Regions from separate parts of the Homo sapiens genome. Here regions 1, 2, 3, 4 and 5 are each reported to be linked to region 6. The links are microRNA targets in miRTarBase. Many come from high-throughput screens and were not tested one by one. Region 6 holds a microRNA gene; each other region holds the end of a gene's coding sequence.

The links. The annotated mature microRNA hsa-miR-1248 reads ACCUUCUUGUAUAAGCACUGUGCUAAA and lies in region 6 at 1,838-1,864, shown strand. An mRNA with a match to its seed (bases 2 to 7 or 8) in the 3' UTR can be bound and repressed. Matches are read on the target gene's strand: a 7mer-m8 pairs with bases 2 to 8, a 7mer-A1 pairs with bases 2 to 7 and ends in A, and an 8mer does both.
Region 1: miRTarBase lists TTF2 as a target of hsa-miR-1248. The part of its 3' UTR that is shown has no 7-base or 8-base seed match.
Region 2: miRTarBase lists SHB as a target of hsa-miR-1248. Seed matches in the 3' UTR shown: 7mer-A1 at 3,154-3,160 and 7mer-A1 at 2,469-2,475.
Region 3: the mRNA of PDE1B is a reported target of hsa-miR-1248. Seed matches in the 3' UTR shown: 7mer-m8 at 2,151-2,157.
Region 4: miRTarBase lists OAF as a target of hsa-miR-1248. Seed matches in the 3' UTR shown: 8mer at 4,063-4,070 and 7mer-A1 at 3,595-3,601.
Region 5: miRTarBase lists RASGEF1B as a target of hsa-miR-1248. Seed matches in the 3' UTR shown: 7mer-A1 at 1,100-1,106.

Annotation. Positions count from the first base shown.
Region 1 is chr1:117,100,588-117,105,673 of GRCh38, reverse strand. It overlaps TTF2 (transcription termination factor 2), which reads right to left. Exons shown (of 23, transcript NM_003594.4): 23 at 1-4,294. The coding sequence ends at 4,150. Among named protein-coding and RNA genes, the nearest start is that of MIR942, 8.5 kb to the right of the region's middle.
Region 2 is chr9:37,915,540-37,920,539 of GRCh38, forward strand. SHB (SH2 domain containing adaptor protein B) reads right to left here. Exons shown (of 6, transcript NM_003028.3): 6 at 359-4,465. The coding sequence ends at 4,282. Among named protein-coding and RNA genes, the nearest start is that of SLC25A51, 14 kb to the left of the region's middle.
Region 3 is chr12:54,577,074-54,582,151 of GRCh38, forward strand. PDE1B (phosphodiesterase 1B) reads left to right here. Exons shown (of 16, transcript NM_000924.4): 15 at 152-272; 16 at 787-2,166. The coding sequence ends at 255. PPP1R1A (protein phosphatase 1 regulatory inhibitor subunit 1A) reads right to left here. Exons shown (of 7, transcript NM_006741.4): 5 at 4,903-5,058; 6 at 3,871-3,977; 7 at 2,173-3,319. The coding sequence ends at 3,314. Among named protein-coding and RNA genes, the nearest start is that of PPP1R1A, 9.0 kb to the right of the region's middle.
Region 4 is chr11:120,228,606-120,233,691 of GRCh38, reverse strand. OAF (out at first homolog) reads right to left here. Exons shown (of 4, transcript NM_178507.4): 4 at 3,358-4,824. The coding sequence ends at 4,550. Among named protein-coding and RNA genes, the nearest start is that of POU2F3, 9.0 kb to the left of the region's middle.
Region 5 is chr4:81,423,032-81,428,117 of GRCh38, reverse strand. It overlaps RASGEF1B (RasGEF domain family member 1B), which reads left to right. Exons shown (of 14, transcript NM_152545.3): 14 at 326-1,725. The coding sequence ends at 350. Among named protein-coding and RNA genes, the nearest start is that of RASGEF1B, 46 kb to the left of the region's middle. RefSeq lists a silencer at 289-583 and an enhancer at 359-943.
Region 6 is chr3:186,784,838-186,789,911 of GRCh38, forward strand. It overlaps MIR1248 (microRNA 1248), which reads left to right and starts at 1,835; the gene lies at 1,835-1,940. EIF4A2 (eukaryotic translation initiation factor 4A2) reads left to right here. Exons shown (of 11, transcript NM_001967.4): 4 at 125-264; 5 at 1,046-1,214; 6 at 1,327-1,436; 7 at 1,665-1,808; 8 at 2,290-2,427; 9 at 2,658-2,747; 10 at 2,966-3,045; 11 at 4,288-5,060. The coding sequence ends at 4,432. RFC4 (replication factor C subunit 4) reads right to left here. Exons shown (of 11, transcript NM_002916.5): 11 at 5,063-5,074. It overlaps SNORA63B (small nucleolar RNA, H/ACA box 63B), which reads left to right and starts at 1,486; the gene lies at 1,486-1,610. It also overlaps SNORA81, SNORA63, SNORA4 and SNORD2.

The DNA of each region.
Region 1 (5,086 bases), not on the chromosome of region 6:
ATGATCTCAGCTCACTGTAACCTCCGCCTCCTGGATTCAAGTGATTCTCCTGCCTCAGCCTCCCGAGTAGCTGCAATTACAGGCACCCAACATCACGCCTGGCTAACTTTTGTATTTTTAGTAGAGAGGAGGTTTTGCCATGTTGGCCAGTCTGGTCTCGAACTCTTGGCCTCAAGTGATCTGCCTGCCTCAGCCTCCCAAATGCTGGGATTACAGGTGTGAACCACTGCGCTGGGCCTGCAATGGGAGTCACTGACAAGGTTTTTAAAGGGCCCAGGACTCTGTCTAGCTGCGGCATGCACAATACTCCTATTTGATCAACATGGCTAAGGCAAAGTCAAACTACATACCTTCCATGAAGTCAATTCTGTCGAGTAAGAAATGCCTTATAAATCCGGTGCTCAGGAATGTTGCACTTTGGAGACAGATGTTCACCATCTGGTTCTCAGCTGCACCCATGCTGCTGCTGGTTCTCATATTCCCAGACCTTGTCCCACAGCAATAACACTAGCACTTGTGTGGCCCTTCATGGTTTTCAAAGCATTTATTACCTCATATCATCCATGCCCAAGTCAGGTGCAATAGGCAGATGTAAAAAGCAAATCCAGCAGCAGTATTGTGACATGAAGGAAGGCTGGTTAACACAGGCAGGACTCATAGTGCAGCACCTCAATTAGACCACTGTGTTGTGGGATGCTGCCCATCGCTAGAAGGTGCAAAGACCCACCTTGTCATACCTAGACTTGACGAAACTGATTTACACTAAAATGAATATGAGGCTGAGACAGATACCAGAATGCCACTTCTGTTAATTCATGCCTGTCTCCCTTAGATGCTAAGCCTCATGAGGACAAAACAAAAAAAACCAAACAAACCCAGCCTAACCCCCAGGGAGGGAAGAGGGGAGACACATATGCAGCTCCACAATGTAATTCATGTAATCCATCCCAGCACTAGGATTTAAGAATGCATGTTTAGTATATTCCATCCCATTAAGGCAGTGGTTCCATTTTTTTCTGCATCCACCTCAAGTCAGTAGCATCTCACGGCTATAAGAACACCTACCCAAGACATAACTAGGTTGCTTTGCTTATGTACAATAACATGAGAAATTAGAAAAGCTGTTTTAAAATACCAGGAGGCATCTACCTTACAGTAGATTACTTGTCAATGGCCTCAATATCTGAAGATTTTAAGTTACAATCCCTGCATCCCTCTCCAAACTAAAAGCCAGAATGCTTGAACCTGAAAGAATTCCTCTCCCCTAAACAATGCTTGATTGGAGACTGACAATGTTCATCTAATACCTTCTAGTTGACATTACTGATCTATCTGGTCAACCATGTTGTAGTATATATATTTGCTATGAAATTCCCAGTGGAGCATGAGATACATGCTAATCCACACATTTTACAGATGAAAGGATTGAGATGTCCAAGGAATCTGCAACTTGCCTAATATCAATCAGCAAATGGCAGAGCCAGGTTTGTACATTCTTGCTGGCCTGGGAGCCACTGCTTCTCAGGTGACTCAATCTTTACCTTGGTATGTCAATCTTATAGCAAAACTTCAAAAAGGCAATGTTACTTCCTTTGCTTCTTGATTTTATCAGAAACCTTATTGCTGCTAAGTTCTGAAAACTGCCCACCTTACAAATGAGGAAATCAGAGTGTAGAGAAAGTAAGGATTTTTTTCTCTCTCTTTTTTTTTTTTTTTTTTTTTGAGACGGAGTCTCGCTCTGTCACCAGGCTGGAGTGCAATGGCGCGATCTCAGCTCACTGCAACCTCCACCTCCCAGGTTCAAGCGATTCTCCTGCCTTATCCTCCCCAGTAGCTGGGACTACAGGCGCACGCCACCACGCTCAGCTAATTTTTGTATTTTTAGTAGAGACGGGGTTTCACCATGTTGGCCAAGATGGTCTTGATCTCTTGACCTCGTGATCCGTCTGCCTCGGCCTCCCAAAGTGCTGGGATGACAGGCCTGAGCCACTGCACCCGGCCAATTTTTTCAACGTTACACACCCAGCTAAGATGAACCTAGAACTAGAGTCAAATCTCAAACGTTCTAGACTAGAATTCTTCCCACCAGGCCATTGTCTTTACCTTTGTAAGCCTTTAAATCTTGTCCTTATAGAAAACTTCTGCTTAAATAGGCTCCGAATGCCTCAGTCCACACTCTGACTGGGTTAACATAGGGTCTTGTTTCCCAACTCAAGGGACAGAAATGTTTCTGTGTTAGAAGAACTGTGATTCTTTCTAGCAGAAATTAGCAGAGTAAGTGTTTTTGGAACAATTGCTAATGAGAAGGAAATCTGAATAGTTTCCTGAAGTATAAAATCTCAAGTGTTTGTTTAGGGTACAAACTGCTATGTAAACAACACAGAAATCTCAGTAGCTTAAAAAAAAAGATTCCTTGATCATGTCATAGTCCAGTGTAGGTGAGCTGGGGCGAGGAGGGAAGTGTACATGGGGAGCCATCCTGGGACTGAGGCTTCACTAGTCTAATAGAAGGGCTGATGGCCAAAAACTAGGCTAAGAACTGCTGAGCTAGTGGCTTCACCTTCCCTAGGGCCTTGTAATCTTCCATCAGTTCCTTTGCATCCCATAGGCTGAGGAGGGAAGAAACAGCATGAATGATCTTTTGGAAAGTGGTAGAGGGCCACCTAGAAGTGACTTACATCAATCGCTTCTCTCCACAGTCCATTGATATGGACCCCGTCAAACTGCAGCAAAAACTGGGAAATACAGTCTCTCTGGGTGCCCGGGAGGAAAAGGAAGTGGGTTTGGTGAACACATAGCATTATTTCTGCTACACTGTCAAACACATTATTTATTAGATTGTATCAATACTACTGTTAGTATTATTAGTATTGGATTGTACCAATAGTATTATTAGTATTGGATTGTACCAATAGTATTATTAGTATTGGATTGGATTAGTATTGGACTGGATTAGTATTTATTAGATTGTACCAAATACTAAATGAAACAATGATACTAAATGCTACAAATACTGCAAATTTGTAAAAATACAAATACTATTAAAAATGACACAAATATTATACAAATACTACAAATAGAAATGTTATAATAGAAATACTAAACGATACAATGAACCAAATGATACAAATATTAAACTGTATGGTGATAACCAATATTAAATGACTGAGTGATATACAACACTAAATGGTACAGTGATACAAATACTAAATGATACACTGACACTAAACAATACAATGATAACAGATACTCAGCATCTGTTCATGTACAAAGCATCTCCTTGATCTTCAGCCTGAGAGGAAGAACTGCCTGCACTGAGAGAACTGCAGAGATGGCTGGCTGCAGGGTGGCTGCAGGGATTGACTCTCTGCTCCACCCATAAAAAGATGGTTACAGGTGCAACATCACTGGCAAGAAGAGATGAAGAGATAGGATGGAGCCTGTGTTAGAGAAGGTAGTAACTGGTTCTCCCATCATCAGCTAAGAAGAGAAAGGCAACACAGAACTTTTTGAGCTTTTTTTTCCTTTTTTTGAGACAGGGTCTCACTGTATTGCCCAGGCTGGAAAACAGTGGCACAATCACAGCTCACTGCAGCCTCAACCTCCTGGACTCAAGGGATCCTCCTGCCTCAGCCTCCCAAGTAGCTAGGACTACAGGTGTGCACTACCACGCCTAGCTCATTTTTTTATTCTTCATAGAGATGGGGTCTTACTATGTTGCCCAGGCTGGTCTTGAACTACTGGCTTCAAGCCATCCTCCTGCCTTGGCCTCCCAAAGTGTCGGGATTACAGGCATGAGCCACCACACCTGGCCCGCTTTTTGAACTTTACTGAAGCTTATATACAATTCTGCCAGAGTTGTTTTCCAAAATCATCCAACTCTAAAACATATTCTTTTATCTAAAAAAATCAATTGGTTTCCATACCACTCATTAAATAAATTATTAACATAATTGGTTAACTAATTGGTTAACACAACCCCTCCTCAATTCTGGGGATAAGATTATGCCTCATTTTGAGGAAGGTGAAAGGCTTGACGGTGAAATTGAAATGCAAAGAACAGAGTTCAAGGCTCATGGTTAGGTTGTTATTCCCAGATCCTAATACAAACCAGCAATGGTGCTATTCTGAGCCCTTATCCACAGGAGGTTAGATGCCAAAAAGGACTCTGAGGTCAGCCAAGGTGAGCTTGGTGACAGATTCTCCAGACCCTGATAGAACTTGTTTGGCCAAATCTTTCTTTTTTTCTTGGAGCTGTAAGATCTTTTCTTCTACTGTTCCCTCACAAACAAATCTAAAAAACAAAAACAAAAAATAAGCAAACTATCAAAAACCCTAAGCAGCACATCTAATAATATATTCAAACTTTTATTATGCTTTCATTTTTAATGAGATTTCTTCCTTTAAGTCTTCTTAGGTCCAGTTAAGAACCCTGTCTGAGGAATCCAAACAACCTTGACTAGATATATATCCCTTTAAAAGGATGTGACCCACATTGGCATTTTAATACTTTCTGAAGCTAAGGTAATTGAAACAAACTCAAAATAAGCAAAAGATATCCCAATCCAAAAAAGTATAGAGATCCAGCTTTTACCCAAAAAGTTCTACCTTGGTAAGTCCATAAGGCCTCAAAGGTTATCAAATTTCTGCTAGTTTAAGTAGAGTATTTCTTAGTGAATTCACAATAAAAACAGGGTTTTCAAACCAAGTAAATGGCACTGTTGTCATTCATTCACTCATTCAAAAGTATTGATTAAGCACTCACTACACTATGCTAGGTGTGGGGATGGAGAGATGAATATAGTCTTGCTCCAAAGCAGAACAAAAGCGAGACAAACATGAAAATAAACAATAATATGACCTGGTAAGTGCTATAATGGAAGTATGTGCCGTGTGCAAAAGGAGGAGAAGGAAATGTGTCCAGGGTAGTCAGGGAGGGCCCCATTAAACAGTTAACTCTTAATATGAGACTTGTATGTTGGGCAAGGGTTTGCCAGAAAGAGCAGTGAGGAGAGCACCCCAGGGAATGGGAACACGTGCAAAACCATGGCTGAGTTTCAGAGCATGGTGTATTGGAGGAAGTTCA
Region 2 (5,000 bases), not on the chromosome of region 6:
ACAAAAATCATGCATGCTCAAGGAGGTGCATTTAAAGGAGACACTGTGTGGCCAGGCACCCGCCAGTAATCCCAGGACTTTGGGAGGCCAAGGTGGGAGGATCCCTTAAGCCCAGGAGTGAGACCAGTAGCCTGGCCAACATGGCAAAACCCCATCTCTACTAAAAATGGAAAAATTAGCTGGGCATGGTGGTGCATGTCTGTAGTCTCCGCTATGTGGGAGGCTCAGGTAGGAGGATCACCAGAGCCTGGGAGGCAAAGGCTGCAGTGAGTGGAGACTGTGCCACTGCACCCCAGGCTGGGTAACAGAGAAAGACCCTGTCTCAAAAAAAAAAGAAAGAAAAAAAAAAGACAAATGGTAAACAAGACACTTGTAGTATATTAAGAGCTTCACATTAAATATTCATCATTATACAGTGTGTCACATAGATTTGGAATGTTACAAGAGACTTCAGCAGTAGGTGGCTGGTTTAAGGCTCCTGGCAGGGATGCAAACAGCCCCAAGGAGGGAGGTGGAAAGGCCAAGGGGCACCTGTGTTCCAGGACCAAGGGGCTTGCCCTCCTGCAAGCGCGCCTGTGAACAAGTCCCCGTGGGGTTCTGGGAGGTGCGCCCACATCTAAGACTGTGCGCCCTGCACTCCCTCTGGATGGCTTGCCGAATTTGGTCTTCGCTGATCACCAATTCTGGAAGGGTGGAGAGACAGTTGGCTGGACAGCTGCCTGATTCGGCCATGACCCTTCACGGGTGTCTGTGGGCCAACACCAAACGCCAGCCTGCTCTGCTGGCAGGGCTTCTACCTGCACAGTCCCTAGGGCTGCAAGAGCAAATGGGGACCCTGGCTGCCGGTCCTTGCCAGGCCCTTGGTCAATGATATCACCACTTCTGAGACAGCGTCTGGGGAGCTACCGGAACTTCGTGTTCAGCATCTTACAAAGGGGGCCGCTGGTTCTGGGAATGGGCAGAGGGAGCCTGCAGCTCCACCCTGTTGACCGGACGCCTTGCGGGTAGCTGCTTCAGGTTTCCCTCCTGCTCACTCTCAGGCCACAGAGGGGCCCCGGCCCACAGCCGCCCTGTGAGGACAGGGCCTGCCTCCTGAAGCCTCGGAGTCTTTGCACCCCTTTCCTGGGAACAGCTACGCTGTGAGCCTCTCTCCAGGAGAGGGTGTCAGCCTGGGCCATTCTTCTGACTTCAGGACGGGACTGGCAGGCGGTGGGGCCCTCTTCCCCTACAAAGCCTCCTTTCTTTCTGTGGGCGCCATCCTGTTTGGGGGGCTGCCAGAAGGGCCCTTGACTCCTCAGCGCTCAAGGACAGAGTTGCTCAAGTGGGCAGGCATTATGGTCAATAATAAAGCCAGCAAAGAAGGGAGACACAGAAACAGCCGCTAGTGCTGGAGGTTCTCAGACAAAATGCCGAGGGCGCGACGTTGTGTGGCAGGAGCTTTTCTTTTCTCTCAAAGAAATCCAGCTCAATTTTTTCCCCAATTAATTGGCAGCAGATGAAAAAAAAAAAAAACAAACCCAAAACAAAAACCAAACCAAAGCCAGTAACCTGAATGTGAGTGTTTCTGAAAGGGAAAAGCTGTTTCAATTGTTAGATGTCCAAGAAAACATGAATACAGGCTGACACAGGAAACGGTCACAATTAGAGGAAGAAGAGGGAGAGGTTCATAAAATTAAGGGAAAAAAATTCTTTTCAGCAGCTCCCATCCTGTAAGCTGGCTCCTCTGCTGGCCTCTGTCCCTGAGAGGGGCAGGAGGTTGGGCCTCCCAGGGAAACTTCAGGAAGACGAAGGCCAGGGACAGAGGGAGGGTCCCAGGAATACCCTAAGAGGCCAAGTCAGGGCCAGAGGGCACAGCTGCCAGCTTCCACTGAGACCCTCCCAGAGCCTTTTCTGAGGAGCAATGTGCCCGGGAAGATGGTCTACAGGGAAGGACCGTGAGGTGCGGCCCCACCCAGCAGCCTCAGGAAGTGGCTGGACCTGAACTTGCCAGTGTGAGGTCTCACCCTCCTCCCCCGCCGGAGGGTTGTTCCCCCTCTTCCTCAGCCTCTCTTGGGCCTCCTCTGAGAATAAGCCTTGGGGTCCAGGCTCCTCTGTTTGGCCAAGTGCCAACTCCTCACTCATCTTGTCATTTCCCACCTACCTTCCCACTCCCCCAAAGGAAAGCACGAATCGTTCCAGGGTGTCCCTGCCTTCCTCCCTCATTGAGGGATGTTTTAGGAAATGCCAAACAGGCAAGGAAAGGATTGGCTTCTTTAAGAGATTAAACCCAGGCCACAGCCAGCGTGGTCTCTATGAGGGCTGGGCCACGTGGACGTGCCAGACAAGGCCTGGGAGGAAGACCCAAGAGGCAGACTGGTCACTAAAGGCGGGTCACCAAGGGCAGGGCTTTGCACAAACCGCTGAAGTCCACGCAGCTACCTAAAGGGGCAGGGCTCAGTCCCAGCTCGACACGTGGCCTTGGCGAGTCCTCCTTCTCCGGGCCTGTGTCTCTGCATGTGAACAGTGAGCTGGAACCACCTCCAAACAGTCTCTAAAGACATGAGCAGCGCTGATGTCTGAACCTGCTGATGACATTCAAACTCGGCCCCTTGTGCTCTGCCCAGGTGGGCCAGGGATGACAGTCGTCAAACTTCTAGTTCATTCAGACCAGCTGGTGCCTGGCGAAGGCTCTGGAACCCTTGTATCTCATTCAGGAGAGGGCAGCCACATCTTCATGCTACTGGGTGGGTGGAAAAAGCAGGAGAGCTGAGAAACTCTTAGCCTCATCGGGGCTGCCTGGCCTGTGTGGGAGGACCCTGCTATGGCAAGCAAGAGAGAGGTCGCGTGTGCGTGTGCGTGTGTAGGTGTTCTTGTGTGTGGAAGCAGTGTGGACCACTGAGGGCTGTGTGTGTGTGTGTGTGTGTGTGTAGGTGTTCTTGTGTGTGGAAGCAGTGTGGACCACTGAGGGCTGTGTGTGTGTGTGTGTGTGTGTGTGTAGGTGTTCTTGTGTGTGGAAGCAGTGTGGACCACTGAGGGCTCTATGTCCCTGGGAGGTCAGGATTCTCCCTCCTCCATGGGCAGGGTGACAGCAAGGCCATGCAGAACCAACGAAAGAGCATTGGCTGCAGAACCGCTCTGCTGCTGGTGAGCTGTGTGGCTTTGGGCAAATGACGTTCCTTCTCTGTCTCCCTTTCCCTACATGCCAAATACCTCCCAGGTGGTGCTAACAGATAGTGGGGAGAGAGCCCTTTGTAGCCAGCTGGGTGCTGTGTCCAGGGGTTGGGGGGGTGTCAACACAGACGTCCCACTGCAGGAGGGAAAGACTGGTTTTTTGGTCAACACTGGAGGCTCCTGACTATGTCCACTGCTGAAGCCTGAACTCTGAGCTCTGGGTTGACTCCCAGAGTGCTACCGACTGCCTCAGCCCAGTTGTCAGAGCAGACGGCTCTTGTGTCCAGAGCTGCTGAGGGCTGGAGCTGAGGCCTCGGCCTCCCTCCCCTCCCTGGGGCCTGCCACAGCAGCAAGCCCAGAGGAGACACGCCTTGCTCTGGGAGTGAAACCAGAACTGCCCCCTCAGAGACCCTCTGCAGTATATCAAAAAAGGATAAGGCTATATATTAAATGACTATTTTATTTACACACCCTATTCATAAATAATTGAATCCTCTTTTTGACTGCACAATGATTCCTTGAAGATAGCCTAATGATTACACTGAGTGACTACAAGTAGATCAGTGGGCTTACCCATCTGTGTGTGACCACCTTCTCACATCTGTACTCACACACACACTCACACAGACACACATATACACACCAGCGGGGCGGGAACCCCGGGGCCTCCGGGACTCTCAAAGCACCAGCATTTGGCTCCCAGCATCAGTAGGGGGGCTCCTGTGGGAAAACTTTGCCCTGTACAGAGGTGTGAATTTGAGACAGCTGGAGAACAAAGAGATGTCAGCCAGGGAGCTCCCGCCCCACCCTACCCCGCCCCTCGGAGCTGGTCTGCCTTTGTTCATCCTGGAAGGCATCTCTTTGGATTTGCAAATATTTTAATTCACAGAAACTCAAGGAGAGGGTGGGGGTGGGGGCTGGGGTGGTGTGTTGCCGCCCTTCTGTCTTTATCCAGGCCTTCTCCAGCCCCCGTAAGTGGCAACAGCATTCTAGAGACATGCAGTGGTGTGCTAGTACCATACACACAACACAAACGACACAGCCAGCAACAGTGGCTGGGCTGGTTGGTGGGGGGCCTCTGGCACCTCCAAGTCTCAGGCTCTGTCACAGAGCAGGGCAGGTCTGGTCCGCTCACAGGGTCCTCACAGCCACGGGATAGAGGAGGGACAAGTGCTCAGCCCCTTTGATGGGTAGCTTTCTGGTGGTGTAGTAGTGGATGACTTCCGGGACACTGTCGAACGGAGGGCTGTTCTGACCCAGAACGTATTTCTCTTTGGTTTTGGCCAGTTTCATGTGCATAAAACCCTGGTTGCTCCTGTGAACAAAACACAGAGTTATCAGAACTACCCCCCTGACACTCAGGCTGAGGCCAAGGGTCTCCTCAGCTGTCTGGGACAGAAGGGATCCCAGCCATGAAGTGGCTGTGAGCTGCACCTCTCCAAGCCAGGACCGAGGCCCAGGACCAGATGAAATGCAGCTGCACCCAAGCGCACCCCCAATTCCGGCATCTGACCCGGAACCAGCAGCAGCCGCCACTGCTACAAGAGAGCATTCCAACACTGAGCGCTTCTAGGGACTTCTTCAGAAAAACAAAACAAAACAAAACAAAACAAAACAAAACAAAACAAAACAAAACAAAACAAAACTTAGTCCCTCTTTTCTATTACCAGTGCATATCCCTGTTTAAGCCTTGCCTGACAGGTGCAAAGTGTGTTCATGTCCCCAATGCCATGACAAGTGGGTAGGGCAGGGGTCATCACCCCCAGTTTCCAGAGGAGGAAACTGTGTGGCAGGGATGGCAAGTGATCTGTCCTTCCCTTTCAGTAGTAGGAAACTGTCACTGGGAAGGG
Region 3 (5,078 bases), not on the chromosome of region 6:
AGGCTCTTCCCAAGTGGGGATGGGTTGAATGTAGTTCAGCTTGAAGGCAGGTTGATGGATGAGAATCCCTTACATGTCTCCACATACTCCTTGGGTTCTGGGGAAGAATACTTCTTGGCCTAAGCTCAGCCTCCTTTATGCTCCTCTACAGGCATCACCAACCAGATGTCCATTGACGAGCTGTCCCCCTGTGAAGAAGAGGCCCCCCCATCCCCTGCCGAAGATGAACACAACCAGAATGGGAATCTGGATTAGCCCTGGGGCTGGCCCAGGTGAGCCTGTTGTGGTGGAGGGTGTAGGAGAGCTGGTGTCTATCATGGCATCTTTGTTGGGTCGTCTCTGGGCTCCAGTGGATGCGACATTCTCTCTCCCCTTTTGAGCAGTAAAATGGAGCGAGTGAAGACATAGAATGGAGCCAAAGTGTGGGTGGAGCAGGGAAATCCTCCCACGCTCTTCTGTCCCCCAGTCCCTGCAGGAACAAAGGAGGTACCTTCTCAGAACAGCAGCAGAACAGGGTGGGCCCATGCCAGGTGACAGCTAACCTGCACCGCACCTTAGGGAGGGTTAGGGAAAAGGAGCCCAGCCAGGGCACACAGCTCAGTGAGGGCAGCTGAACGTGACTTCGACTTCAGCCCCTATTCACCCCCTTGGCTGGGCACCCTTCTGAAGGGCATTTTTTGCACAGCTCTACTCGGGACTGAGTGGGGATCAGGACTTGGAGAAGGAAGGTCAGGTTGGAGGTGAAGGCAAAGCTCAGGGCACTGAAGTTTCTCCCTCTTTCCCCAGGTCTTCATTGAGTCCAAAGTGTTTGATGTCATCAGCACCATCCATCAGGACTGGCTCCCCCATCTGCTCCAAGGGAGCGTGGTCGTGGAAGAAACAACCCACCTGAAGGCCAAATGCCAGAGATTTGGGGTTGGGGAAAGGGCCCCTCCCCACCTGACACCCACTGGGGTGCACTTTAATGTTCCGGCAGCAAGACTGGGGAACTTCAGGCTCCCAGTGGTCACTGTGCCCATCCCTCAGCCTCTGGATTCTCTTCATGGCCAGGTGGCTGCCAGGGAGCGGGGAGCTTCCTGGAGGCTTCCCAGGGCCTTGGGGAAGGGTCAGAGATGCCAGCCCCCTGGGACCTCCCCCATCCTTTTTGCCTCCAAGTTTCTAAGCAATACATTTTGGGGGTTCCCTCAGCCCCCCACCCCAGATCTTAGCTGGCAGGTCTGGGTGCCCCTTTTCCTCCCCTGGGAAGGGCTGGAATAGGATAGAAAGCTGGGGGTTTTCAGAGCCCTATGTGTGGGGAGGGGAGTGGATTCCTTCAGGGCATGGTACCTTTCTAGGACCTGGGAATGGGGTGGAGAGGACATCCTCTTCACCCCAGAATTGCGCTGCTTCAGCCCCATCTCCAGCCTGATCCTCTGAATCTTCCTTCCCTCCCTTTCTGATACAGTGACTGGGGCAAAAGGAGCCATTGTGACCAGGGGCTGCGGGAGGCCTTTCCTGGGACCTTCCTTGGGACTGGTCTGGGCCCCTGGGGCTTGTCGCCTGCCCTGAGTCCGGAGCCCTTTGCCTCCTTCCTCTCCCCTGGGGCTGGGAGGCTCCATCCGACCAATGTCTGTAAAGTGCTTTGAGGATCTCCCCAGCAAAGCACCTTCAGAATGTATCGACACCAGCTGGGTTAGGGTCAAGGGTGCCTGGGGAGGGTGAGTAATCCTGCATTGCTAAAAGAGAGGGTCTGTCCCCTCCTCTCCACGTCCCAGAACTGGCCCAGCTGCAGGCACTAAGAAGCTCCTCCCCTGAGACAAGTGAGGGGTAGTCGGTGAAAGGCAGATGGACAAGGGGCTCAGGGCTGCTGCCTTCCTGTCCTCTGGAGAGAACCCAGCCAGGCGCGGTGCCCCTTCCTCTCCTCAGGCTCCTCCTTGCCCCCACCTTGCCCCAGGAAAGGCCAAAGTCCAGGTGACTGCCCTCCTTCTTTCTTGTAAATACCAACCATGCATTTGTACAGTGGGCCCTGTTCATGCGAAATCCACATCCATGGTCTCCTAGACCTGCTACCCTGGTACTTCCACCCTACCCCACCCCGAGAAGGGCAGAGACGCATGTGACTCACCCCTGCCCTTGGTTTCCCAGACCCCTGCTATAGCCAGAGAACAATAAAGAAGGGAGACCAGGCCTGACTGTGTGTGTTCACTGGGTACAAGTTGACCAAGCATCTTCACATACATACACTCTTTCCAGCATGATAAAATCTGGGTGAGGCGTTCTCCCTCATATATATATATATATATATTTAGGTATGTATCTGGGCAAGCTGAGGCCCAGGAGGAGGCCCCGAGGGCTCATAGTAGCTGCATGGCAGAAGTGGGACCTGACGCTTCTCAGGCTCTGCTCTTGCCTCTGTACCACATGCTTCAGCAGGGAGGGGGAAAGAATCTTGCCTTCCCTCCTTTCCTCTCTCCCACTACCTGGGAAAATCAAAAACAGCAGCAGGAGAGAGGCCTGGCCGTGAGATCTGAGACAGTTTCTTCTCTTATGCTTGGTTTTGGTCTTATCTGGGCCCCTCAATGTCTAGGACAAGGGAACCCTTCCAGTCTCCAGCATGGGCCTCTTCATTAATAGCCACTGTGTTCTCTATCCATTGTTGCTAACGGGTTGAAATAAGGGACAGCGGTCCCACAGCTGGAAGAGGGAACACATCCTGAAGCTTGGGAATCCAAAAGGAAGGCAGCTGGGGCTTGGAGGGCAGGCGAGGAGGTATCGGCACACCACCATACCCTCTTTCCCATGGGCCAAGTGCCATGGTGCAGTTCCCCTTTTGTCCAGCAGATGGAGCCCACCGCACAGTCACAGCTGGACACGGCACAGGCCTTAGAGCGCCGAGTCTTCCAGCTGCAGGGCAGGCCTGTGAGGTGGTCGGATCGTTCCTCAATAAGAAAAGAGAACCTGGGGCTTTTCTTCCTTCTTGGCACCCTGGAAGTTAGTCCTCCCACCTATCTGACCCTCATCTCTCTTCCCACAGCAAGTAAAGTCAGGGCTAAGGGAAGAACTCTTCCCTGCTCAAGGCTTCTGCCTAGCTCCTGTTTCTTCCTTCCCAGAGGCAGCTTGGCAGGAGGGTGGGGGCTACAGAGAGGGCAGGGCAAGAAGGCAGGGAGAAAGGATTCTCCCAGTTGGAAAAGAAGGAAAGTGCCAAGGACCTAACACCAAATTTATCACTTTTTAAAAACAAGAGATTTTCCCCAAAAGTGAAGGAATAAGAAACAAATCCGGTGTCCATGCATTCCCAAACTGCAGTCTTGATCCCAAGATACCTCCTCCTCTCTCAGACCTGTTATGGGGGAAAGGGGACAGAAAGAGAAGGTGAGAGGCCAGAGGGTCATTTTGTCCCTTCCCCTTCTGGCCATCCCATTTGTCAACATCTAATGTCTCAGAAAGCTTGTTCTGATGTCTGAGAGCAGTCCTTCCTGTGTCCAGTCTATGCAGGGGGCTGCGGATTATGAAATCAAAGCTCAGGAAGTTATCTCATCAATGCATCCTCCAGGCAGGGAGAGCCACTGCCCACTTCAGCTGGGCAGGTGAGGATCTCCCTTCGGGTTCCAAATCCCCTTTATCAAAAAATCCATGGCCTACTGCTCTCACCCATTCCAGGAGCCAGAAGTCCTACACAAAGTCTAATCTCAATCCTTCTTGCTGCAGCTATCCATTTCTTTTTGTCTGTCAGAGGAGATACAAGTCCTTTTACCATAAAGAATAACTTTTTAGGGACTGAAGCTGGTTCTTTGTTTTCCTTTTCCTAGACTCCAAATATTAGCCCCTTGCTTTTGTCCACAATATTAGCCTCCTCTCCTATGACCTGGCAGCCCAGCCCTGGGGTCTTACCGAGTTGGCTCCCTTGGAATCCAGTGGTGGTATATGGGTTGAGGGTTCTTTTGTGCTGGGTTCCTTACTGCCTCTCTCGTGAGTTTTAGGGATGCATTCTGCAGTTTCTGGGGAGGGAACATAGGGGTGGGAGGAAGAGGTGGCATTCATAAAGGTGTTGGGGAGGGAACTGCTTCTCCTCACTGCACCCATACCCCAGTGGCCCCTGAGAGGGCCCCAGGACCAAGTTGGGTGCAATCAGGCAAGACCAACAGGGTTTTCTTTGATCACAATTACTACTATATGTTCACTTTTAAAAAATCTTCAATCAAATTGGAAAGAATAAACCCTCTACAGTTTAAAAAACAAAACTCAATATGTGTCTAAACCTGACATGAACTCATAGGAGGCTGTTTTTAGTCTTTATTCTGCTTAGTGAGACCATTCACTGGATTGCAGAAATATTATGTGTTTGATTGTAGGGTTCTCTGCCGGGAATACTATGCGATACACAGTTTATGTACTATATCTTCATAAAATTGGAAGCATTCTGAATTCTGGAATATATCTAGGATAAGGGACATAGCGCACTGCTACCAGCTTCCACTTATTGCATGCTCTGTGTGTGTCGGGTGCTGTGTCAACAGCCAGTCTCATTTAATAGTCACACACAACCCACTGCAACAGGCACCCTCATTATCATTTTATACCCTGAGGTTAAGTCGTTCAAGGCCTCTCAGCTGGTAAGGTAGCAAGTGGCCGAGCCAGGATTCTAGCCTGTGATTGCTGTTCCCATGAAGGTGGGTTTCCCCCATGTAGCCACAGTGGGGCTCTGAGGTTCAAGTTGGGAGGGCTTGGTGTCACTCAGTAAGGAAAAGTGAAGATTCAAATATATGCCGAACATGCCAACAGATCCATATCCTTGAGACAGTTTTTGCCTACTACTAGGCCTCTCCCAGGCTCCAACTCTTTCCCCTCCCCGCAGTGGGTAAGGCTTGCCTCCTGCTGGGCTGGGAAATAGGATGCCTGGGGCCCTCCCCAGCCTGAACATACTTTTTGCTGTCCCAGAGGTGCCCAGCCTTGACTCCACTTCTGTGTCTGGGATCCCAGGTGGGCGGGACTCCTGGGTTCCTGTGCTCTCAGCGGCCCCCTCAGGTTCCTCTCCTTGCTGCTGTTGCCCCAGGTGATGTTCAACCATCATCTGGAGCTCTGGGGACACAGAGAAAGGG
Region 4 (5,086 bases), not on the chromosome of region 6:
GAGGAGGGTGGAGGGGAACAACCATCCCAGCTGTCACCTGGCTACAGCCAATAGCTGATACTGAGAATAAGCCCTGGAATGCTGTCATGTTTCTCACTGGTCAAACAGCGAACAGTTTATGACAATACCAAGCGATGGCAGGCATGATGATTCATTTTATGTGCCAATTTGGCCAGGCTCTCATACCCAGCTGTTTTGTCAAACATTAGCCTAGACGTTGCTGTGAAGGTATTTTATAGACGTGACTACCTTTATAATCAGTTGACTTTAAGTAAAAGATCACCCCTGTATTGCGGGTGGTCCTCATCCAATCAGTTGAAGGCCTAAAGAGCGAAAATGGAGGTTTCCTGAAGAAGACATTCTGCCTTAAGACTATAACACAAGAGTCCCGCCTGAGCTTCCAGCCTGCTGCCCTGCCCTACAAATTTCAGACTCCCGGCTGGCCACAACATTAAGTTTTGCCTCAGCTGCCAGACTGCTAGTTTGTTAGGATTTTGGGCTTGCCAGACCCCAAAATCCAGCAAGCTAATTCCTTAAAATAAATCTTTCTCTATGTGTGTATCTTACTGGTTCTGTTTCTCTGGAGAGCCCTGACTGATACCACAGGAATATGAGAGAACGGGAACTTTCAGACACTGCTAGTTGTGTGTAAACTGGAACGGCCCCAGCTGTAGGGTGATCTGACAGCATCTACAATGTTCACGCCTGTGACACAGACATTCCAGTTGCCTGTTTTTTCTTTTCTTTTTTGGAGATTGAGTCTCACTCCATCACCCAGGCTGAAGTGCAGTGGTGCGATCTTGGCTCACTGCAGCTTCCGCCTCCCGGATTCAAGCGATTCTCCTGCCTCAGCCTCTCAAGTAGCTGGGATTACAGGCGCCCATCACCACGCCGGCTAATTTTTGTATTTTTAGTAGAGAGGGGGTTTCGCCATGTTGGTCAGGCTGGTCTTGAACTTCTGACCTCAGGTGATCTGCCCGCCTCGGCTTCCCAAAGTGCTGGGATTAGAGTCAGTTGCCTGTTTTTTCTATTCCTGCCTACAACCTGGCTTGTAAGAGCAAGTCACAGTAAACAATTCGATTTTCCATCAGTAGCCAAATGGCCAATAGACCATTTGGGAGAATATTAGGCGATTAGACATGGAATGCCCGTGTTGGGGAAGACCTTGGAGATAACCCAGTGAGACCCTCTCTCTTATGGGATGTGTGTGACCCACACAAGGTCACACAGAGCTGGGCCCCAGCGGGTGCCCATGCTCCTCAGATACAATGCTGGCCTCGAGCCTTTGGTTCTTGAGAGTGGCACTTGCCCTCCTTTTTGCCGGAGTCCTTGTCCCCTCATCCACCAGAGCCAGGTCCAATAAAGACCCTGGGGTAGAGGTCCTCCAGCTGTGGCCCACAGTTCCCCCACTGAAGGCCTCCCTTGGCTAACAAGCCTGAAGGGAGAGATGCCTGAAGAAAACCCACAGGAAGTCCATAGTGAGGTCCAGCCCAGCCCGGGTGAGGTTGCCCAGGGAACCAGGCACAACTCATCCTCCCGGCTTGCAGCAGCACCAGTCAGGGCTGGGTTTCTGGCCTCCCCGAGGGTGCTTTGCTTACCCTGGCAAACGGAAATCAGGCAGTTCTTCCTGCCAATTCTGGTCCCAGGAATCTTTGGACACTGTCCCCACCACCCCCTGCCCACATGTTCAATGATTGCTACTACAGAGACTGGCCCAGCAGGTGCTCTACACTCCACACTCCTCCCCGTCCCACCGAAGCCTAGGTCCCCTCCTGTGGGTGAGCTGTGCTCTCGGAAGTTCTGGCTGGCCAACCTCATAAAGCACTTTGGGTTGGGAGGGGGTGTGGAGTAAGAAGGACAGGGGTTGGATCTCAGTTCTGTTCTAACAAGATGCCTGGACTTGAACTTGGGCTGGTCACACAATTTTATAAGGGAGCCACATCTATAAAATGTTACAGAGTCACTACAAGGAGCCAATGGCCAATTTATATGAAGGCACATTGTAAACCCTAAAGTCCGCAGAGAAATAAGTACTGATATTACCACTCCCAAGTGTTTTACACGGCCACAAAAGCCTCCTGCGATAGGGAAGTCTTATCTCAGTGTTTGCCAAACAGCTGACCACCTACATCTATTTCAACAAGCTCCTAAGTGATTCTGATGCACACTAAAATTTGCTTTTCAGCAAAGAAGTGACTGTCACGGCAGGATTTCAGGTGCTGTGACAGTGGGGCTAAGGCGGTTGGGCGAGTGCTTTGGAATGGTGGACTCGAGCCCTTGGATGTGGCCCTGTGGGAGGTGCCTACTTTGCAGAGTGTTAAGGTCAGCCCAAAGTCTCAGGGATTCTTCTCATCACCATCCCCTGAGACTAAGGAGCCCAAGGCAGCTGGTGTCTGTAGTGATGGTGTCCAGAGCCCCCTCACTGCAGGGGCCAGACAAGCTAGGAGGTGCTAGTCAAGGAAGGTCAGAAAAACACTCCAAGTCTTGAAAACATTGCTTTTTAAAAAAGCATTATTTTTGGTGACTTGGAAATCAGAAGGGAAAACATACTGATTTGGGGACTCCCCTTCCATCAAAAAAGGCACACAGGAGGTAGCAGGTGCCTTCTCCAAGTATCCCTTGCCCACCTGGAGCAATGGCTGGGGCTTGGGATGGAGGCCCTGGCAGAAAGGGAAGGAGAAAAAGGACTGGGGGGTGACTGATGGGACAGCTCCCTCCCCATCCCCCAGCAAGGCTGAGCTGGTCCTTGAAAACAGGTTCAGAAGGGAGGTGTGCCCACCTGAAAAGGTTATCTCCCCGCTGACCCTCAGCTCAACCAAGGCCAAGCAAGCCCAGCTCCCTCAACCCTCTGGCCTGCATGAGTTCAAGGGGCAGTTGCAGCCTGTTCTGGGAGTTCTGGGAGCAGAGTAAAGGGGACCACCCTGCAAACCCCTTCCCTCGCCAAGGCCTTCAAGGAAGGATCTGACTGTCCCCATCTCTTCCTTGAGAAAGTTGGGTCACCTGGGGAACCCATGAGACTCTTCCAACCCCTAAAACACTCCTGCCTCCACCTTGCCAAATCGTTACCATCTTCCAGCCTCAACCCACACCCCAACTCTTCCAGAAAGCCTTTCCCAATACATGCAGCCTGCACATCCCTCGCTCTGGAACCATCCAGAACCCTGCCCGGCACTTCCTATTACAGCCTCTTCATGTTGAAAGATACTTTGGAAGTGAAGAGCCTTCCAGATGTCTGATTTCATTGAGTCAGGCTTATAGCTGCAGGAATGTCTGCTTTTTTCACTAATAGTAATGATACTAAGAATGGCTAACAGCACTATGTGCTAGATGCTTGACATGCAAGAATTCACTTCGGTCTCTTAAGTAAGCTCATTTTATAGCTAAGGGAGTGGAGGCACAGAGAGGTCAAGCAACTTGACCCATGGCTGCACAGCAGGTAAGTAGCCGAGCCCAGATCTGAAGCGGGGTTCCAATCTCCACCCCATCTCTTGCCTTCGCGCTGGCTATTTCTGACTGGCTTACTACGGTTGCAGCTATGTCTGTCTCATTGTCTTGGGTGCAGAAGTTTTATCTCATCCTTCCCTAGTAACATCTTCCTTCTCCTCCTTCCTTCCTCAAATGGCTGAGCACACAGTAGGTGCTTTCGAAGTTCTTGTTCCAAGATAGGCCACTGCTAGGGTGTGGGGACACTTTCTGACATCAGGTGGCAGCATTGGCCAAAAGTTTTCTCCAAACTCTGGGTCTCATTAGTCAAGTAAAAACTTAAAACGTTTATTTCTGGTAGAAATGATAAATACTTTGCACTAAAAATCTGGAATTCAAGTTTTCCTCGTACTTCATGCTCCCTCCCTGCCCCAGAACCTTACAAAAATATTTCTGTGTAGAGAGGGAAAGAGCTGGTGCCTGCTCTGGAGGCAACGTCCAGGTCCGGGAAAGGCACTCGTGGTCTGTGATCTGTCTCAGTGATGGGAGGTCTCCACTCGCCCCACAGGCAGCCTCGGGGCCAGAGATGAGAATATGCTGTAATCCAGTACAGGGGCTGCGTCGTGGGTCCCCAACAGCTCCTTCTTTGGGGATAGTGAGCCCCTTGTTGGGGAGTAGGAAGGGACTGAGGGGCCAGCTCCTTCCAGATGTGTGCATGGGGAAGGGAGTTGTGTCTGGGGAGGTGGGTGTCCAGGTATAGACTCCTTTTAGGGTCTAAACGTTCAAGGAGTTCAACAGAACAACCAGAGGCCATCATGTTTTGGCAGCTTGCAAGTGAACACTCCAGGGGAGATGCAGGAGGGAGGGGTGTAGATCTGGGGAGCCCTTCTCTCCCTCTCTGCCCGCAAGGAAGGCACAGGGTGGGAATGGGGGTGCCTTCATGAGACCCCCTGCCATGCCACACCCCCTTCACAGTCATGTGAGATGGGGCCAGAGGGGCCCAGGCTCTAGGGCCAGGGGAGTGGGGAGGGAGGGAAATAAGGCCTCAGGTGGGGGTTGCCACCCCCTCTAGTGGCTGGTGAAGAGCAGTGGGCCCAGAGCAGCCACCCGCCAGGTTGCTCCCACCCTAGCCTGGGTAGGGATCCTCATCCCAGAGACACAGCTGCCTCTGGGGCACGTAGAAGTCGAAGCTGTAGCTCTTCTGGCAGCTGCGGATGCCACACTTGTAGGGCGTGGGCCGGTCGCGGCTGTGGCAGTACTTGAGCATGCAGGGGTACCAGGCCAGGCTCAGGCCATAGCGGCAGACGCAGGGCTTCCCGTGGTCCCCCACCTGCCTGCAGCGAGGCAGCTCCGCCTGCTCTGAGGCCTTGGGCAGAGCCTCGAACACAGAACTGTCCACACCTGGGGGAGAGAGGCAAGGATCAGGGAGGGAGGGAGGGAGGGAGGGAAGGAGCTCCCCTAGTCAGAGGCCGCTGCCATTCCCCACTTGGTCTCCTCTGTCATCCCACAGGCATTTACAGACACCTCCATTTCCAAGCTTGCCATGGGACACAGAGGTAAGACCTGGTTACTAGGCTCCTCCTTGCTGGGCTCGTGGGAGAAACAGATTAAATAGGAATCACCCTCCTCTATGGCATCAACTGTGTGCTACGGGCTCTACTTA
Region 5 (5,086 bases), not on the chromosome of region 6:
GTGATAACCTGTACCTAAAAGCTCTTTATCATTAATGATCTTTGCTTTTTTTGTTTTTGTTATAATATAAACCTACGCAAGATATAGATTTATCTGTTTAAGCTTTTGCCATCTCCATTAATAAATGTTTGTTTTTTAAGTGACTGGCAGTTTTCCCAGAGAGCCAATAGGACTTAAAAGCTTGATTTTTTTTTTCCTGGTTTAACTTTGTAAAATCAAACTTAAAACACAGGAAAGATAAAATTAGTATTACACAAGGCATTTTCATCCTAGTTCAAGTAGTCTGTTACATTCTGTCTTAGGTTGTGTTGTTTTTATTACTCAGGTCGAGCCTCTTAGGCAGAGTTTAACACATGGGAGCTGCCTGCCTGCTGCTGCTGCTGCTTCCTGCAGATCATGGAGGGGCTGGCCTTTGTTTTCTGGCATCTCGTACCACGAACACTCATGAAGACCCTGCAGTCATTGGAGCACCCGGGTCAGCAAAGCACACAAGCTCACTCAAGACCAGATGGAGAACTTATTTCCTGCAGCTGACAGATAGACTCAGATTTTGTGAGACTGAAATGTTCACTGAAGACACTTGAGAAAGAATCCTCTAAAAATCCCGGCTCTGCACATTATTCATCTCCTGGAATTTCCATGTGAATCACAGCTCTGCACCTGGATGGAGTTTTCTTTTGTGTGTGTGTGTTTTTTTTAATTTGGTTGAACATTTGCTGCTAATGGGACTTGCCCAGCTGAGTGCTGGCTCTGAGGAAGCCCACGTTTCTTTTGTTAACTTAAATGAAGAAAGGAGTGGAGGGAGGGGATCTAAAACCCCCCCGTTTAGATCCCAAACCTTAGCTCAATCAGTATTGCCAGAGAGGGGTAAGACTGGTTGGAAGCTGACTGCAGACTTTGTTTCCCCTTAGTATGTGCTGTGTTGTAAATTTTTCTCCTCCCTCCTCCTACAAGGTTTTGAGTTGGCTGCTGGTTAGCAAACTCCTTTTTACCCATATAAGTTATTTAATATAATAATGAAGCTCAACACTGTGGTAGGAAAATAGCCACTAGAAAGAAAATAAAAAGCAGAGTTTGTCATTGGACTGCTTAACATGCTAGAAGGACTTTTTTTTTTTTTTTTTTTTTTTTTTTTTGCTCTTCTGAGCTGTTTACAACTGACCACTGTGTTCCACAGATGTATTTTTCAATAGCTTTTTGTTACTTAGTTTTCCATGATGCCTGTTATTTTTCTCTTGTAAATTTAAATGAGCTGACTTTAAGGATCTTGGGAAAACCCATGGCATAATTACAATTTTCTTTTTAATCGACTTTTCATTACTTTTGGGAGTCTGTTGGTAACTAAAGATGTCAACAAAGAATAAATTGGAGAAGTTACCTGTCCCCACTATAGCAGTAAACAAAACAGATGAAAAACACCTTGCTGTTAACTCAATGGTTGATCTAATTGTGAAATCGTTCACCTTGTTAAACATCTAAGTAAGTCTGTAGTCGCTCTGCAAACAGCCATTATATTTATTTACTCTAGAAGAAACTGTAGAGTAGTAATTCGTGCTAATGAGAAAAACAAAATACCATGTTCAAAACAGATGTATTTGAAAACTTAATGACATGGTTCCAAAAACTAGAGCATGTATGTATGCTGTGCATCATCTCAGCAGACCTAAAATATCCCCAAGTTGTCCCTTTACAGCCATCAATATATTTTACACTCTGCGGCCAGGAGTTGTGGCGTCTTTCTTTTCTTTTATGGGTGGAATTGTTGGGGGCGGGCATGGGCTATAATCACAGTGGATCAGTTCAAGAGACTGGCTAAGAATGTATCTGAGGAAGTTATCTTAACAGTTTGTGCATGGGCATTTATTTTTTAAAAAAGAATGATAGTATTATTTGCCAGGCATTTTCTAAGTGTTTAGCATAGATTCATCTCTACCTATTAGGGGTGGAAATAATAATAACTTGTACAAGGCCACATAGCTAATGAGAGGCACAGATACTTGAAATGGGCCTTCTAATTCCAGACCTCAAGCTTTAAACCACACCACCACAGCATCTCAAACTTCAATATCCTTGCAAATTACCCGGGAATCTTTTTTACATGCAGATGCAGATTCTGTCGGTCTGGGATGAGGCTCAGGGAATGCTGATGCTGCTGGTCCTGGGATCCCGCTCAGAGTAGGAAGACACTTCTGCCTCATGATACCTGTTGAGATTTTAATTTATGGGGGTAGCTGAGTGATGACACACAGAGGCCAGTGCCACTGAAAGCTTTATATTATTCAATTTCCCCAGAGAAAGGGCACATGCCATGCCATGCAGGGCCACAGGGGAAGCACCGGTGTCGGTCGGGGGCAGAAGCAGGAGCAAGAAGAAAGCATAGGCTTTGACTGAGGTTTCTGCAGGGAGGCAAGGCAGAGCAAGGCCAACAGTTTCCAATTGGCAAGTCTGAATAATTCCAGCAGGCTCTGGGCTGGAGGGGCGGTCTCCATTTGCTTGGTACCTAGCCCCTGGGGTGAGTTAGGGCAATTTCTATATTGGCTTGGTGTGTGAAAGTTAGATAAAGGGGAAGGTTGCGGCTATGTTCTTGACAATAGTTAGATATGCTCAGGGCTCAGTCCTTTGCTGTCTCCAAGAATTAGCTAGTCCTGGGAGTCTCTTCCCTGCCAGCAAAATTTATAAGATACCAGAACATCATAAGATACAGAAAAAAAACCGTGATGAATGCAACTTCACAATATTGCCTCCTTTTTCCTTGCACTGCCTTTCCCTGATCCCTCTACCACTTTGGTTATTGTGACAGCAACAAGATTCATCTTTCAACCATCTACACCAGGGGTCAGCAAACTATGGGCTGATGGCCAGATCTAGCCAGCTGCTTGTTTTGTATGGCCCACAAGGTAACAATGCTAGAAAAAAAAAAAGAAGATCTCATGATGTGAAAATTATCTGAAATTCAAATTTCAGTGTCCTTAAGTAAAGTTCTATTGGAACATGGCCACACATTTATTTATATATCTTCTTGTGGCTGTTTTCTGCTACAGCTGCAGCGTCTTATACTAAACAGACTGTATGGCCCATAAAGCCTCAAATATTTACTTTATGGGACTCGATGGAAACTTTACTGACCCCTGATCTCAGTGTTTCTTTTAAGCATTGCAAAGATAGTTTGCAAAAATGCTATGAGAGCTCTATGATGGCATTAGATACCTAAATGTAGCAGCTGAAAAAAATTTCCTAAAGTGGTATTAGGCCTAAAAAAAAGTGATTCTAGGGCTACTTAAACAAGAAGTTTTTACAGCAAGAGTTACATCCTCTACTCATTTTAATGTCTAGGTAAGCCAGAGCTTTAAATCCTGTATTAATTTACCTGTGAAAATATTTCATATTCTCCCTTTTGTGCCGTGTGTGCGTTGGATTCCCCAGTGGGTGTATAGATGAATTTATAATTTATGTGGCTGGATGGAAGCCTGGGTAAATACAAGCATAAACAACATCAGGCAATGCCAGTCGATAGACTGCGATTCCAGGATGTGTTCTGTCCAGGCCTGCCGTTCATTCCAAAGGCCTGCATTTCAAAGCTGCAGGCTTGGAGCTGGGACTGCTGGGAAGGTGGGGGGCAGGGTTCAGAACTGGTTGGGCTTAGGAAGGTACCAGGAGAGTGCACCTTCTAGTACTTGAAATGTCCCTCCATTTTGAGGACACAGGAGTGGCCTACCTTTCATCTAACAAAGACAAGAGAATTGAACGCTGATTGTCTTTGTCTTTGAAGGGTTTATTGCTTTACCTCTTCACTTCACCTGGCTTTGGCACCTCTGTCATTTCTTCATTTACTGTTTTTTCTAGCATACTTTTAACTTCTTTCTGTACTTTCTCTTTCCAACTGCTGTCCACATGCCACCTGTGTATAGAATCCCAAGAAAACATAACCCACCATTAGAATTTTAGTTGCTAAACTATATAAGAACTTTGAGCTGTAGATTAACATCCTCTACCTTCCTTTGGTGCCATTTGTTTACCCCTTTTTCCGAACAAAAAACAATACCTGCCCCTGTTCCAAAGGTGTCTTACTATTCCAATAAAGAATGCATGCCTGGGAATAAAAAGAAGCTTAGACTACTGTTCCAATGGAGCTAAGTGTTCAAAGAAATTCCTGAATTCATTTCCTGGGGGAAAAAATGTGGTTAGTGACCTGGAAACTACTAACAACTTATAAAACTCAATACTCTGATGGCGACTCTGTTCGCTTTACCCCTAAGACATCTTGAAAGGAAAGACTTTTGTCAGAGTTGGGCTTCTAAAGTTTTAATAGGAAATTGAGGCACTTTCTGTATAATTCAAGCCAAAGATTTTTTTTTTTCTGGGTTTGAATGATTGGATAATTGCCTCAATTCTCTGTTCCATGTAATTGAGATCACTTGACTCTTCTTAGTGCTAATAAAGAGATGTTGGGATTCACGGTTTATTAACCAAACTTTTCAGTTTGTGGACCTGTCATTCAAAACTGCAAACAAGGCTGATCCCATGCAAAATAGACTACTGCCTTTATGCTGTACTAAGAATCAGTCCCTCTTAAAGGATGCATTTATAACCTTTATGCAATGAGGAAATTTCCAGGTAGCCAATTTTCTTTATAGTGCTACCAGCCTTCAGCAAGCTTAAACTCTGCCCTGCAAGCCTGAAACCCTGCTTCTCTAAGATTCTACATAACAGGAGATTAAACATCCAAATGTGTATAATCGCATTCTGGACAGTATGAAGAAGCTGTCTTGGAATATTGTTAACTATTAGAATACTTAAAGTGTGCACATCACCCAATTTAGGATTTCTTGGTAATAGTAGCCTATACTTTAGAAAATTAAAGAGGAGGAAGGGGCCGGGCACAGCGGCTCACACCTATAATCCCAGCACTTTGGGAGGCCGAGGTGGGCAGATCACTTGAGGTCAGGAGTTTGAGACCAGCTTGGCCAACATGGAGAAACGCCATCTCTACTAAAAATACAACAAATAATTAGCCAGGTGTGGTGGCCTGTGCCTGTAATCCCAGCTACTTTGGAGGCTGAGGCAGGGAATCGCTTGAACCTGGGAA
Region 6 (5,074 bases):
GAAGAGAATACTCATTGCTGATCACTTGATTATTTGGGCATAATGTTCCAAATGGAATACATGGTGTGAAGTAGAAGTGACAATTTGATGTGGGATCGGTAAATGTGTATCCTACTTTTTTTAGGGTATGATGTGATTGCTCAAGCTCAGTCAGGTACTGGCAAGACAGCCACATTTGCTATTTCCATCCTGCAACAGTTGGAGATTGAGTTCAAGGAGACCCAAGCACTAGTATTGGCCCCCACCAGAGAACTGGCTCAACAGGTATTGATAGTGTAGTTCAAAAAAACTGCTTGCGTGTTGCATAGGTTTCAGGTTTCACAACTGTGAAGAATTTAAAACTTAGTATAAATTGGTCCTACCAGATCCCTCCTTTTAATTGTCCATGCATGCAGGGAGTTTTTGTTGAAAGTTTTAAAAGAACTGGGTATGCAGGTATGGTTTGTAGGGTTGTATACTAATAGATTGAGAATCCGAAGCGCTCTCTTGGATGTACTAGATCTGTCCCCATTTTTTAAGTTTGAATGCAGTTGTGCAACATGAAAACTGCAGTGACATGTTACCATTTGACTGTCTCCGTAGTTCGTGATGCATCTGTTGCATGCTATGTTTTCAAAGCTCACTGCTATATTGGCTTTGAAGTAAACCTTCCTAATAAAGCTGTAGGCTTTATTGAGGTCAGGATTATATAAGGCACAATACCCTCTGGGGGAAAAAAATCATTTGCCCTAGCTGTAATTACAGAACATAAATTTCACTACGTACTCCCTACCTACAGTGAAGAATAATGTAGGAAACGTTATTCTTGGATTGTCTAGCTGATGCGTGGAGCAGCAGCATCCCAAGTTTGACAAGGCATAAGAAAGACATTAAGGGAATTTTACCTTGCAGCAGTTAGGTCGTCTGCATTTTAAGCTTGGAAGTAGTTTTGTGCTGTGCATGCATAAAAGCTGTTGGCAGACCAGATTATATTTGCCTTTATGCTTTAAAAATTAGTCATTGATCCTGGAGTTCTGCGGAATAATAATTAAGGCTTGGGTTTTAGATCCAAAAGGTAATTCTGGCACTTGGAGACTATATGGGAGCCACTTGTCATGCCTGCATTGGTGGAACAAATGTTCGAAATGAAATGCAAAAACTGCAGGCTGAAGCACCACATATTGTTGTTGGTACACCCGGGAGAGTGTTTGATATGTTAAACAGAAGATACCTTTGTAAGTATTGTCTTTAAGAGAGTATTTTTTTTAAAACTGTTAACATAGTTGAAAAGTCAAATTGTATCACTGAGTAGATCTAGAAATGACAGTATGACTTTGTTTCTAACAGCTCCAAAATGGATCAAAATGTTTGTTTTGGATGAAGCAGATGAAATGTTGAGCCGTGGTTTTAAGGATCAAATCTATGAGATTTTCCAAAAACTAAACACAAGTATTCAGGTAAGCATTACTTCACCCCCCTCTTAAAGGTAGAGATGGGGTTTATTTAATGCAGGTACTGTTACAATACAACTGATGTGTTTTGTTGTCGTTCCCCCTGCTTAAAGCACTTGATGCATAACTCTGTCTACCTTCATTCCGTAGTAAGACAGAGACGCTTGGCTTCAGACATTTTCCTTTGGGTATTAATGTGTAAGTTGTGCTACAACATAATTTTCTCTTTTTAAGGTTGTGTTGCTTTCTGCCACAATGCCAACTGATGTGTTGGAAGTGACCAAAAAATTCATGAGAGATCCAATTCGAATTCTGGTGAAAAAGGAAGAATTGACCCTTGAAGGAATCAAACAGTTTTATATTAATGTTGAGAGAGAGGTAACTGTCTGATTGTTAGACATTATTTTACCTTCTTGTATAAGCACTGTGCTAAAATTGCAGACACTAGGACCATGTCTTGGTTTTTGCAATAATGCTAGCAGAGTACACACAAGAAGAAAAGTAACAGCACTAGATTGTAAAGACTGGGGTGGACCTCTTTCTTAATGTCCAATGTCCTTTGTCTTAAGATTTGGTGCAATATCTCATTAGACCTAACAGAATGAAGTTAATTTTTATAATTTCTACGTTTTGAGACTGGGTTATGAGACTGGCTAAGACTGGCCAATTTTGGTATTTTGGGTAGAGACAGTTTCACTTTCTTGAAACCCTGGTCTGGTTGGAACTCTGGGCTCTAAGTGCTAGGATCCCAAAGGGCTGGGATTACAGGCATTAGCACTGTGGCTGGCCCAGAATGAATTTTTAACTGAAGAGTTGGAAAAACTAAATGACTGTTAACTTTAACTTCTAAACATTACAGGAATGGAAGTTGGATACACTTTGTGACTTGTACGAGACACTGACCATTACACAGGCTGTTATTTTTCTCAATACGAGGCGCAAGGTGGACTGGCTGACTGAGAAGATGCATGCCAGAGACTTCACAGTTTCTGCTCTGGTAAGAGGTGTTCTAAAATGTCTGGATTTCCACTAAAGCAGGATTCAGACTACAATATAGCTGCTAAGTGCTGTGTTGTCGTTCCCCCTGCTTAAAATAAAGTTGTTTCTTAACTATACCTGTCTGCTATTCTCCTGTAGCAGCCAGGGACGCTTGGTCTCATACATGTTGATTAAAATTAAATACCGACCTGACTGGTGATTCTTGAATTAAGGTTTATTAATTTGCAGCATGGTGACATGGACCAGAAGGAGAGAGATGTTATCATGAGGGAATTCCGGTCAGGGTCAAGTCGTGTTCTGATCACTACTGACTTGTTGGTAAGTCTCTTAATGCTTTTTAAAAATCTACCAAAAGTTAGCTTTTTGGGGGGCAGGTTTTTAAGTAACCTTTGCCAACTTGGGCTATTTGGAAGAGTAAAAGACCACACTCCACAGTGGGCTATACCACTTAGTATAGTTCGCTACTATTTTGTGGCCTACATGACAGGTGTCAAGTTTTTTTGAATCAATTTTTAAAACATGCCATTGTGTTTCAGGCTCGCGGGATTGATGTGCAACAAGTGTCTTTGGTTATAAATTATGATCTACCTACCAATCGTGAAAACTATATTCACAGGTGAGAAGCCAGCATCTTGGCTGTATTGAAAAAAATTCATACGTTTTTCTACTGTGATTTGTATGAAAGGTAACATCAAATCAAGGAATAGATTCAGTAAAGTCAGTAGTGTTCAGTAAGATGATGTAATTAAATTTGTACTAGGGAAGGTTGATGAGAACAAAGTGGGAAAACTTGTAAACATTGCCCAGATTGTGGACATAGGGTTTTTTTCCACAATTGTTGGTCTTACCTTATGCTTGAGCTTTTAGTGATGTTCTTGTGTCCATGTGTTTTTCTTGGTGATTTTTTCTATAGTTGGGATTTTCTTGGTGTCGCCTGGTAGCAATTTGAGTGAACCCTGGTTTAGTTATAGTGGCTTTATCCCTAAATAAATTGAATTGTACTTTGTTATATGATGTAAAAAAAGACTTTTTAAAAAATACAGGAGTCGATAGCAGCAGTTGGTGACGAGATGGCACTCAGAAACGGCGTTGACGTAATTTAGGACGTGGAATCATAAGCGAAACAGCACACTGTTTGAATAAAGAGCGAGTCGGTATTTATATTTGTTTTTCTTTTGTCATGATTATTTGATTTTTAAGTTGCTCCAGCTAAGGCATTTTTTTGTATTAGTATTTCTATTAGGGAACCTTTCTTATTAGGTGGTTTGTATTGTCTGGTTTCTAACATGCAGGTAGCTGTTTGGCAGTTAAACACGTTTAGAGTAATTTGAGTTACAACGTGTGAAACTGAGCAAAAAAGCAGTGATAAGTTTGGGTTACCATACCAAATATTTGTTTTCCCACTGGAAAAAAGTAAGTTTTAGAAAATAGTTAACCTTTGCAGCATTTGTTTACAGTTTACAGTTCCAGAAGTGCGTCGAAATGGATTACATAACTGCTCTTTTATTCCTGGTGTTCACATCTGTCCCAGGCTGACACCTGCTCTTGGCTGGCCCACTTTGGTATGGGCTTTAATTTCACTACCCCAAACACGATACTGTCATCTGCTTTATAATAATGCTCAAGATGCCTGATAAAAATCTCATTTTGCAGCCAGACAAGCCTTGAATCCTTTTGGCACTAACTGCAAAGGAAGATTTTTTTCTCTAGATATGCATTAGCAGCTAGTGCTCCAGTTAGAAGCACGAACTATAACCTTGATAAGTAAACAGCAGCTGGTGGTTAACAAGTGGATCGTCATGTTCAGTAGTTTATACATTATGTGAGAAGTAACGTTCTGATTCTTTTTCTTACACAGAATTGGCAGAGGGGGTCGATTTGGGAGGAAAGGTGTGGCTATAAACTTTGTTACTGAAGAAGACAAGAGGATTCTTCGTGACATTGAGACTTTCTACAATACTACAGTGGAGGAGATGCCCATGAATGTGGCTGACCTTATTTAATTCCTGGGATGAGAGTTTTGGATGCAGTGCTCGCTGTTGCTGAATAGGCGATCACAACGTGCATTGTGCTTCTTTCTTTGGGAATATTTGAATCTTGTCTCAATGCTCATAACGGATCAGAAATACAGATTTTGATAGCAAAGCGACGTTAGTCGTGAGCTCTTGTGAGGAAAGTCATTGGCTTTATCCTCTTTAGAGTTAGACTGTTGGGGTGGGTATAAAAGATGGGGTCTGTAAAATCTTTCTTTCTTAGAAATTTATTTCCTAGTTCTGTAGAAATGGTTGTATTAGATGTTCTCTATCATTTAATAATATACTTGTGGACTAAAAGATATAAGTGCTGTATAAAATCAGCCAATTATGTTAAACTAGCATATCTGCCTTTATTGTGTTTGTCATTAGCCTGAGTAGAAAGGCCTTTAAAATTTTTTTAGAAAGCATTTGAATGCATTTTGTTTGGTATTGTATTTATTCAATAAAGTATTTAATTAGTGCTAAGTGTGAACTGGACCCTGTTGCTAAGCCCCAGCAAGCAATCCTAGGTAGGGTTTAATCCCCAGTAAAATTGCCATATTGCACATGTCTTAATGAAGTTTGAATGTTAAATAAATTGTATATTCACTTTAAAGGTGCTTTTGGTCA